3 linked regions of the Homo sapiens genome follow. The protein of the gene in region 1 interacts with the protein of each later gene in a biochemical or structural test. Each region holds a gene or a part of one and is shown on either strand. Other genes may lie near its edges.

The links.
Region 2: the proteins of WAS (region 1) and ACTR2 form a complex in vitro, tested with the Homo sapiens proteins (one study listed by BioGRID).
Region 3: the proteins of WAS (region 1) and PLCG1 form a complex in vitro, tested with the Homo sapiens proteins (2 studies listed by BioGRID).

The regions. Positions count from the first base shown.
Region 1 is NC_000023.11:48,686,799-48,690,398, reverse strand, and holds part of WAS (actin nucleation-promoting factor WAS), read right to left. Parts: coding exon 3,444-3,600; intron 2,346-3,443; coding exon 2,303-2,345; intron 2,100-2,302; coding exon 1,946-2,099; intron 1,740-1,945; coding exon 1,333-1,739; intron 1,080-1,332; coding exon 965-1,079; intron 250-964; coding exon of another isoform or gene 1-249. UniProt on the Homo sapiens protein: Effector protein for Rho-type GTPases that regulates actin filament reorganization via its interaction with the Arp2/3 complex. Important for efficient actin polymerization. Possible regulator of lymphocyte and platelet function.
Region 2 is NC_000002.12:65,251,726-65,255,558, reverse strand, and holds part of ACTR2 (actin-related protein 2), read right to left. Parts: intron 1,832-3,833; coding exon 1,695-1,831; intron 15-1,694; coding exon 1-14. UniProt on the Homo sapiens protein: ATP-binding component of the Arp2/3 complex, a multiprotein complex that mediates actin polymerization upon stimulation by nucleation-promoting factor (NPF).
Region 3 is NC_000020.11:41,175,524-41,178,340, reverse strand, and holds the end of PLCG1 (1-phosphatidylinositol 4,5-bisphosphate phosphodiesterase gamma-1), read right to left. Parts: 3' UTR 715-2,817; downstream 1-714. UniProt on the Homo sapiens protein: Mediates the production of the second messenger molecules diacylglycerol (DAG) and inositol 1,4,5-trisphosphate (IP3). Plays an important role in the regulation of intracellular signaling cascades.

The sequences.
Region 1 (3,600 bases):
GGCGGGGCAGATCGCTTGAGCCCTGGAGTTGCAGAGCAGCCTGGGCAACATGAGAGTAGTGAGAGCTTGGTAGTGAGAGCTCATCACTACCAAAAAAACACCAAAAATTAGCCAGGTATGGTGGCACACGCCTGTAGTCCCAGCTACTTTGGGAGCTGAGGCGGGAGGATCGCTTGAGCCTGGGAGGTTGAGGCTGCACTGAGCCATGATTGCACCACTGTACTCCAGCCTGGGACACAGAGCGAGACCCTGTTTCAAAAAAATTTTTTAAAAGATTAGATTAGGTTACGTCATAATGAATTAATGTAAATCTGTTAATACATGGAATTAAAATTAATATTGTCAACAATAGTGTTCTTCATAATATTGTCATCACATAATGGGTTAATTTTTTTTTTTTTTGAGATAGGATCTCTGTCACCCAGGCTGGAGTGCAGTGGCACAATCATGGATCACTGCTGCCTTGACCTCCCAGGGTCAAGCAATCCTCCCACCTCAGCCTCCCAAGTAGCTGGGACCACAGGCACACACCACTATGCTTGACTACTTTTTTTGAATTTAGTTTTTATGGAAACGAGGTCTCACTATATTGCCCAGGCTGGTCTCGAACTCCTGGGCTCAAGTGATCCTCCTGCCTTAGCCTCCCAAAGTTCCTGGATTACAGGCATGAGCCACCGCGCCGGCCAGCTGATGTTAATAGTACTGAACATGTGGGAATGACATTAATATTGTGGACACACCCTGGCATTAATGTTAATATTACTGTCAAAGTTGGAGTTAATTATATTATTGTCACATAATGACTTAATGTTAACATTGTCAAAAACGAGGCTGACACAAGATTCATGTTAATGCTGTCAAACAGATGGGGCTGATGTCACTATTGGTGGTGACTGCTGGGATTGTTTTGAGGCCAGTGCTAGCCCTGGGAGCCAGGTTTGAGGCCCCGGCAGGATCAGCTCACCGGAGGAGTGGATGGCTCTGCTTCTCTTCTGCATCACGTGCATCAGGGCCCCCACCAGTCCCTCTGAGCTCTGAGGTGGTGGCTGCAGCGCTGAGCTCTCTGGGGCCCCAGGGGTCTGCAGCAGGCAGGGATCAGCACAGAGGGCTTAGGGCCTGGGAAAGGAGCATTTCTCCCCGCCCCTCCATCAATATTTTCTCTCCCACACACTCCAGTCCCCTTCAAGGCTTCCCACCAACCTTTCAACCCTATCACTGAATCCCTAAGGCCTGGCACTCTCCTCAGTCCTGGCCTCAGCCCCCCAGTATCCTGACTTAGACGGGACACCCCAGAGTCCTAGACCCCCAATCCTCCATCCTGCCTGTCCTCACCTTGTTCAGCTGAATTCCCTGCCGGATTTGATCCAAAAGCGCTCCCCGACCCCCACCAGGGGCCAGGCCCCCGGCAGGCACCAGAGCAGGAGGGAGTGGGGGAGGGGCTGGTCCATTCCCGGAGCTGGGCGGCGGTGGCGGTGGTGGCGGTGGTGGTGGCATGGGTGGCCCACCAGCTCCAGGGGGTGGAGGGGGCAGTGGTCCAGAACGTCCAGTAGCTGGAGGGGGTGGTGGTGGAGGGCCCCCTCGGCCTGGGGGTGGGGGTCCCCGGGGTGTTGGTGGGGGTGGGGCAATCCCCAAAGGTACAGGGGGCAGTGGACCAGAACGACCCTTGTTACCCCCCACAATAGGGGGCCGGGGGAGCTGGTTCCCTCCTCGAGATGGCGGTGGGGGCGGCGGAAGTGGCTCTGTGGAGGGGGTATAACACATAGCTGTAACTCTCATTGATTTCTTCTGAGCCTCAGTTTTGCTCATTTGTAAAATGGGTACCCCCACTGACCAACTCCTGACTGAAGCAGTATAGGTGCTCCCATAAGGACTGAGTGACTTAGTGCGTATCTTAGCTATGAGCTGCTTGGGCTAGAGAAGGGAGCGTATGGAAGCAGGGTCTCACCCTGGCGCCTCATCTCCTGCCGCACAGCCTCCAGCCCACCCTGGTCCTCAATGAAGTCGTAGATAAGTTTAGAGGTCTCGGCGTCGGTGAGCTGGGCCTCGCTGATTCCTGCCCTGGAGAACAGACTCCGCAGATCTGGGTCGAGGTTGTTCACCTGCCCAGGAGGAAAAAGGCCAGGGGCAGGAGTAGAGGAATAAGGCGAGGAGACAAGCGACATGGATTGTCGTTGGGTCCATCCCAGCAAGGGATCTGAGAGGGGTGTGGGAAGGGCACGATCTGGGGGTGGGGTCTCAGCAGTGGTCTTTGGAAGGGTGGGTGGAAGTTTAGTGGAGTCCAAGAGACTCTGAAGTTACTCACGTCAAATCCATTCTGGGGGTCCCACCCCACGTGGCTGACATGCCTGGGAGAGGTGAAGAGACTCCAGTGAATCCTCACTGCCCTTCCTTCCCTCCCTTCATAGTGAAACCCTCTTGCCCTCTCCTGCCCAAAGAGACTCTGAGGGGCCAGAATTAATGAATGAGACTGAATGAGTGAATGAGTATAGGCAGGAGTTATGGAATTAGAAGGGCTCCATAGTTTGTGGTGCTGATCCATCCACCCATCCCTCTTTCCCCATCTATCCCATGCATTTGTCCACCTATTCATTCACATTCATCTGTTGGACTACTGATCTGTCCATACATCTGTCTCTGCAACTATCTGCCCACATATGTCTGTTCACCCATTTGTCCACCAGTCTGTCCTCACACACACTTGTCCATCCACCCATCCACCTACCCATGTGCCCACCTTTCCATCTATCCATCCACTCATTTTTCTACCCATGCAACCACACACTTCTGTTCACTTATCCATTGAACTGTCCATTCATCCACGTATCTGTCCACCTGTCCATCCCCATCCACCTTGTCTGTGAGCCAATCAGCCTGCATATCAATCTGTCCACACACCTATCCACTCACCCATCTATCTATCCACGCACCTCCCATCAACCCATCCACCCATAAACTTGTCCATCCAACCACTTATCCATTCATTCTTCAACCCATTCATTCATCCATTCATTTATCCATCCATCCACCCATCCACTCACCCACCTACCCACCAGCCCTTCTCATCCATCATCTACCTCATCTATCTATCCATTTGTTCACCTGCCCACCCACCTGCTCTCCTAACAGCCCACCCAGAGTGGGCCCAGGGTGAGGCAAGTAAGGTGCCTAGGGTGCAAAATTTAAGTGAGTCACTCACTCTGAGAGTCAGGAATTACAGTTGCATGCCTCTGAGAGTGAGTGCCTCCTTAAATTTTGTACCCTTGGTGCCTTATTTACCTCTCCCTAGACCCAGCCCTGCACCTACCTATCCAACCACCCATTTACCCACTCAGCCACCCAGCCATCTGCCCATCTGCCCATCCTTCCATTCACTCAGCTGTCCACTTGTTCATGTGCCCCTCTGCCCCCAGGAATCTGTGGGTCCACTGGGGAGTGGCTCTCACTTGAATCCACTGGGTGCACCAATATCAGCTTTGCTGATCTTCTTCTTCCCTGAGCGTTTCTTATCAGCTGGGCTAGGTCCAGGTGCTGGGAGCCCACGGTATCGTGAACTCGTGATGTCAGGGTTCTGGATGTCCACTGTCGCCAGCCCCAGGGAGA
Region 2 (3,833 bases), on another chromosome or scaffold:
CGCAACAGAAGTAGCTGGTACAAAACAATAGCAATAAGTTCATAATACATCTGAATGAGTTCTACTCTGCAAAAGCTAGTAATGCTCATTAAATATGTCACATCAATAACAAACAGAATGGGCAGTGGATCCTCAGCTCCTACTATTTCAGAAGCAGGATTTTATCCGCCATAAAAGGATTTATATTTCAGTTTCAGAGAGGGTAAAAGAATTAACAATTCATAAGTAAGTCAGTAAAATGACTAGAAAAGTCAGTTTTTGAAAAGCACTGCATGAGTACTAATGTTTTGATAGTTTTGATAAACAATCAAAAGTATATTAATGAATAAATATTATTTTAGTACTGGACTCCTGTAGCCTGCAGTTTGCTCACACAATTAATGCCATATTTATGAAATGCCCCCAAGTCTTTAAAAGTTTTATCTTTAGCTTCTAGTACTGTGTCTGGCACATATTAGAAGGACAATAGCATTTGTTTAACGAATGATAAGGGAATTATTGGGATACTCAAAGGTATAATCTCCATTGTTACATTTCTTAAATGCTAGAAAATACTACTATTTTTTTAAAAACCCACTGAGAGAAAAAAAATTACTAGACTTTACAAATAAAAAAAAAATCCTCTAATATTTGAGTCTGTGTTCTAAAGACAACCCCAGAAATTCTGTTAGTTACGCTTTGAATTTTGGCCTAAAATGAGAGTATTATAATTCTCATTAATTTAATCTCCCCTCATGAGGAGGATTACTTTAAATGAGACTGAAGGAACCCAATGTCAAGGTAAAGACAGTGCAACCCAATTTAATGCAGAGACAGGGTTTCTTAATAGCAGCACCACTGACAGACTATACATTGTTTGTTGTGCAGCCAGCCCTATTCATTATAGAATGTTCAGTAGCATTCCTGCCCAGCTCAGACAACCAAAAATGTGTCCAGAAATTGCTAATATCCCCCAGAGGACAGCACTGTCCCCTGGTGAGAACCACTGTCCTGGAGAGGATAGACTGATTATAGAATTGTGGTATAAACAATTTTCTAAATTTTATTTTAATATTAAAAATGATATATGTTAGCAAGTAGACACCTTATGTACTTTCTCCAGTAATGTTTTAAAGAAAATTATAACTAGTTATATTCAGAAATAAACTAAAATAGTAAATATTAAAAACTGCATCTATTCCATGAAAACTACTAAATATTAAAGTCTGGCGTATTTGGGCTGTTTTCCTCAAATATCATTAATTTGCTATCACTGTATTTTGTAGGAAAGGACAAGAGCAGACAACCCAACCAAGATCATGGCTTAAAACATACCTGCTCAAAGAAAGGTTTTATGGCAGAAAAGGCTGCCTGAGCTGTCCAAGAAAGTTTCAAATTAGGGGTCTCTTCTATCCTTGAAATATCTGTCTACTCACTCCTCAGGAATAACAAATATAATTATGTAATGATATAATGTACTCTCATTAGTATACAGAGATCATGTGTGTACACTTTTTTCCTTGTTTTTAATGTATCTTCTTTTTTCTTCATGTGTATAAATCTTATATGAATTTTTATATAAATAAGGGAGGTAATTGGATAATTTCTCTAGTGGTACAGATTTGCTGGAATCCTAAAACGATAGATTCAATTCTGTGTTAAGGTGGTAAACAAATTACAAAATTTAATTTCCATGATATTTTCCTTTCACTTACCTTGATAAGATATCTAGTTATATCCCTCCCAGCAATATCCAGTCTCCTGGTAAGATGAGGGAGAGAAAAGCCTTCATATACTGGGCAAATGTGAGTCACACCATCTCCAGAGTCTACCACTACACCAGTCAATAAACCTGCATAAAAGCCAGGGGGATTTAAATAAAAAGTCAAATCAGGAAAACCAAAGCCAGCGAGTTCCAAATACAGTAGGGAAGCCAAAACAGAAACGTAACCAACTAGAAGCCAGAATTTATTATTTAGTTATTTTGCAGTTTGTTTCTAATGCATAAGTATTAAAGCGAGTGTTCTCTTTTAAGACTTTTAGTCTACTATTATGTGCTGTCCAAGGAGATGAGAAGAAACAGACCCTGAGACTGAGGACTGAAAAACAGGACTTTTTTTTCCTTTTTTTTTTTGAGACAGGGTCTGGCTCTGTCACCCAGGCTGGAGGAGTACAGTGGCTCAATCTAGGCTCACTGCAATCTTCATTTCCTGGGTTCAAGTCATACCTCCCACCTTAGCCTCCTGAGCAGCTGGGACTACAGGCATGCACCACCATGCCTGGCTAATTTTTGTAATTTTTTTGTAGAGACAGAGTTTCGCCATGTTGCCCAAGCTGGTCTCGAACTCCTGGCCTCAAGTGATCTGTCTGCCTTGGCCTCTCAAACTGCTGGGGTTACAGGCGTGAGCCACCACACCCAGCAGAACACGTTCTTAAAGCTCTGTACAATTCTTTATTTTTTTCAACTTAGATAGTTTTGAATATACTACAAATAACATATACTGTGTGTTCTGGAAAAATGCCTATTGATACTAGACAGCTAGAAATCTAAGAAAAATTAAACATGGCTAGCCAAAGCATCACTTTGATTATTCACTGGAACTTATAATAAAAGGCAATGTCAGTTAAACCTCATAATAAAAGAACAGCAAAGAAGCTGCTTTGTTTCCCCTGTTTCCTCAACCTCCTGGGCTCAAGTGATCATCTCACCTCAGCCTCTCAAGTGGCTGGGATTATAGGCATGTGCAACCACACCCAGCTAATTTTACTTTTTATAGAGATAGGGATCTCACTATGTTGCCTAGGCTGGTCTCAAACTCTGGAGATACAGCAATTTGACCACCTTGGCTTCTCAAAGTGCTGGGATTACAGCCATGAGCCACCATACCTGGTCAAAAAAACTTTTTTTATTTATTTTTATTTACATATTTTTTTTGAGACAGAGTCTCACTCTGTCGCCCAGGCTGGAGTGCAATGGCACAATCTCAGCTCACTGCAACCTCTGCCTCCTGGGTTCAAGCGATTCTCCCGCCTCAGCCTCCCAAGTAGCTGGGATTACAGGCACATGCCACCATGCCCAGCTAATTTTTTGTATTTTTTTTTTAGTAGAGACGGGGTTTCACAGTGTTAGTCAGGATGGTCTCGATCTCCTGACCTCGTGATCCACCCACCTCGGCCTCCCAAAGTGCTGGGATTACAGGCGTGAGCCACCACACCCGGCCTAAAACTACCTCCTTTTTAAGTGGATATAATTCCTTGATGCAATAAGCCTCATAAAACTCATATACAGCCCTTGAATGTTGTACTCTTTTAAAAAGAAGAGGATTTCCATTGCAAAAAAGAAAAAAAAAAGGAGGAATTCACACCATCATCAATTCAAAAATACTCCCAGGAACACTGACTAATGCAAGAATTTACATTTTATTTCCCAAAGAGCCCTCCCTACCCACCTCACCTTATTTTCTACCACTTCCATCAGGTCACACACATACTGGCCTTTCTCCAAACACACTTGACCCATTTCCAGTGCCACACTCTTTTCCCACTGGATTATCCCCTGAAGTGCCTAAAAGACTCCTTGGCACATATCTGACAGGCCCAGACATTCTCAGTAAGTTCCTGTTGAATTTATAAGACCATAAAAAAAAAAAAGAGCTCTCCCAACGTGGCCAATATTTTATTTCCAATAAAGAGGGAGGCAGTTGCTAATGGCAATATCAAGAGAATATATAAGTAGTCCCCTCCATTAAACCCACCTCAAAAGTTAGAAATGCACTCCCAAATGTTTACCTTCTCCTTTTTAATCTACTATATATTTGACAGGCATGATTTTATGCTACCTTTTTGAATCTCTG
Region 3 (2,817 bases), on another chromosome or scaffold:
CCCTCAGCTCACCAGAGAAGTTCCAACTCACTGTCTTCTGCATTGCTGAGATCACCACACTGGCTTCTACATGAGAAAACTATGATATTTTAGAAATTATGCTAAATAGACAAAGGCAAACAGTCAAACCTGGTATCATCTGGTGAGAGGACACTGGCAAGTTCTTTTCTGTTTCCTGTGAGAGTGCTGAAAAGCATAGCCTGTCATTTGCTGGGGCGGTGTCGGGGGTTAGGGAATATGCATAAGGACCCAGGGGCTTTCTGGAGGAAAAAGACTAAAGCCCCAGCTTCTAAGACCCAAAGCATTTGAATTTTGTTGGGGTGGCCCTGAAGGCCTGGGACAGAAGGAAAAAGGGTCCTTTGAAATGAAATCACCTACAGTGGAGCCAGGCAGTGATTCTGGACACCAGAATAGGAGTCCAGCTTATGTCATGGGGAAGCAGCTGTGTGTGTTGAATCCCAAAAACCAGGTCCTTGGAAACTAGACCAAACTGGCATGCAACTGGCAAAGCCAATCAGCTGAATGCTGTAGTGGGTAGACTCAGGCAGTGACTCACTTGGGATACTATGGGTGGAATTCGCAGGAGCGGCCAGCCAGGGGGGTTGCTGTGGGGTTCCTCCAGGCAGGGAACAGAATGCCTAGATTAACCCCTAAGCACAAGTCCCCTGGGAATTACTAAAGTACCCAGAGAAGACAGGAGTTGCAGTCTGAGACTGTGCTTGATCCATTTAATTAAAATGTGAAGAAGGCATGATCCTTTCATTCACCGAGTTAGTCTGGTGGGATAACCTGAACCTATTTGCTTTCTACCCACCCTCAACAGAACTCACATGGTGAGTGATGGGCTCAAGTTGAAAGACAAGTGAGTGTCTAGGTCCTTAGTGATGTTCAAGCTCTCAGGTGATGTTCAAGATGTGCTTGGTCAGGAGGCAGACCCCTGCCTTTTCTGCTCATGGCCACAGATACTCAACTGAGGTCAGAAACTGCTCCTGCCATCTTCCCGCAGGGCAGTCTTTAGTCCTGTGGCGGGGGCAGAATGCCCCTGACCTTGTAGGCTCTACTTTGTATGTGTACATGTCTGCTGAGCCAAAGCTGTTGAAAGTGAAAGGTCTGTCACTTTGAACCCAGTCTACTTGTCCCTGGTCTGTCAGCCAGAAGGTTCTACTGGTGATGGCAGGAGAACAAGGAGCCTGCAAGGGAGCCCATCTACCTTCTGGTACCACTGACTTCCCTCTCCCGGCCCTGCCTGCTCTTTTGGTTTGTGCTGCCAAAATCAGGGTTTTTCAACCCTTGTTACTCATTTAAATCACCTTGAGAGGTTTTGAACAATACCTATGCTAAGGCCCCGGGTACCAGTATTTTTCAGAAGCTCCCCAAGTGGTGCTAATGTGCTGTTAGGGTTGAGACTCCACAGGTCATAACCCTGAGCTGTCGCACTGTAGGGACACGGCCTGCATGCATGGGATGGGGCAAACAACTCCTGATGCCAAAGCATTCGGCCCCAAGTAAGGGTCTTCCCCACCAACAAACACTCTGCCTTCTGGGTCAATCAACATTTGTCAGGTCTGGAGGAATCTTGAAGTGAAAATGATCTTTAAATTTGCTTGAGAGTTGGCACGTTTTCCACTAGGAAGAACAATCAAAACATTTGCAGTGAGGCAAAGGCAATGTCTTACAGAGCCCAAGAGAGGTGAGCCTCAGGTCTACAAAGCTGCCTTAAGAAAGGCAGAGCTGTCTGTTCCCCAGGTTGTGTTCCAGAAAGACACTTGTTCAGCAAATAGAGATACGTATTGATGAAAACTAAAAGGGTCAACACTAACAAACACGCCAAGGACGTCCTAACCAACGTGGATGGGCCCTAACAGAAGGGCCTACACAGTCCTCTTCCTTCTCTGATAGGAAACCTTTCTCTCCAGGCCATAAAAACCTAGAGAGGAAACATGGATCATGAGGGCCCAGGTGAATTCCCACCCACCACCTTCTTGTGTATGGGAAAAAGCCACCCTCCTCTCTATGAACTGGGACTGTGAAGCTGTAAAAGAAAGTCACACAAGAACCTGAGCACTATCGCTGTTTGATACTGGCTATCATCAGTTCATGTCATCCACGGAACCGGATCTATCTTAAATTTTTTGTGTGGCGTCATTTTTGTTCCATCCCAGCACAGCCAACTATGGAAACAGAGCTTCAGGAAGAGAAGGGCCTTTCAACTGTGTTGAAAGGGCCCAGAGATTTCAGCTGCCAAGTCCTAGAGGCAATCAGAATGGCACCTGGCAGTGTTAACGAACTGAATGCAACATTTTTGAAAGGAGAGGTTTCTGTGGAACTGGAAAGGGGCTCTGGTTGTTTCCAGCTCACCACCAAAACTGGCTGGCCACAAAGAACCCAGGCAGGATGTACTCTGCTCAGACACACCCTCAGAGGGTGGGCAGGAGAGAGTGGACCCACAACTCCTGTTAGCCCAGAGGAGGGGTTACAGCTCTTGCTGCTTAACCTGAGAAATTTCCAGAAATTTCCTACCTGCTTCTACTGCAGAATAATCATCTGGCGACTGTTTCTAGTGAGCATGTCCCATGCAACAGGCTTTCCTGAGCCCCCGAAAGAGCATACAAGTCAAAGGAAAAAGGACATGAGGATGATTTATTTGGCAGTCAGATCTTAAGAGGGCAGCAGAACTAGCAAATGGCCAACCCTGAGCCCAAATGTGGGCAGTAGGTTTGTGTGTGCTGAATGCTGGCTATGCTATGAGGCACCTTTGCGCCCACGGGCCTGGACCCCGGCCTCTGTCCTCAGAGGTGAGGGCTGCCTTTCTAACCT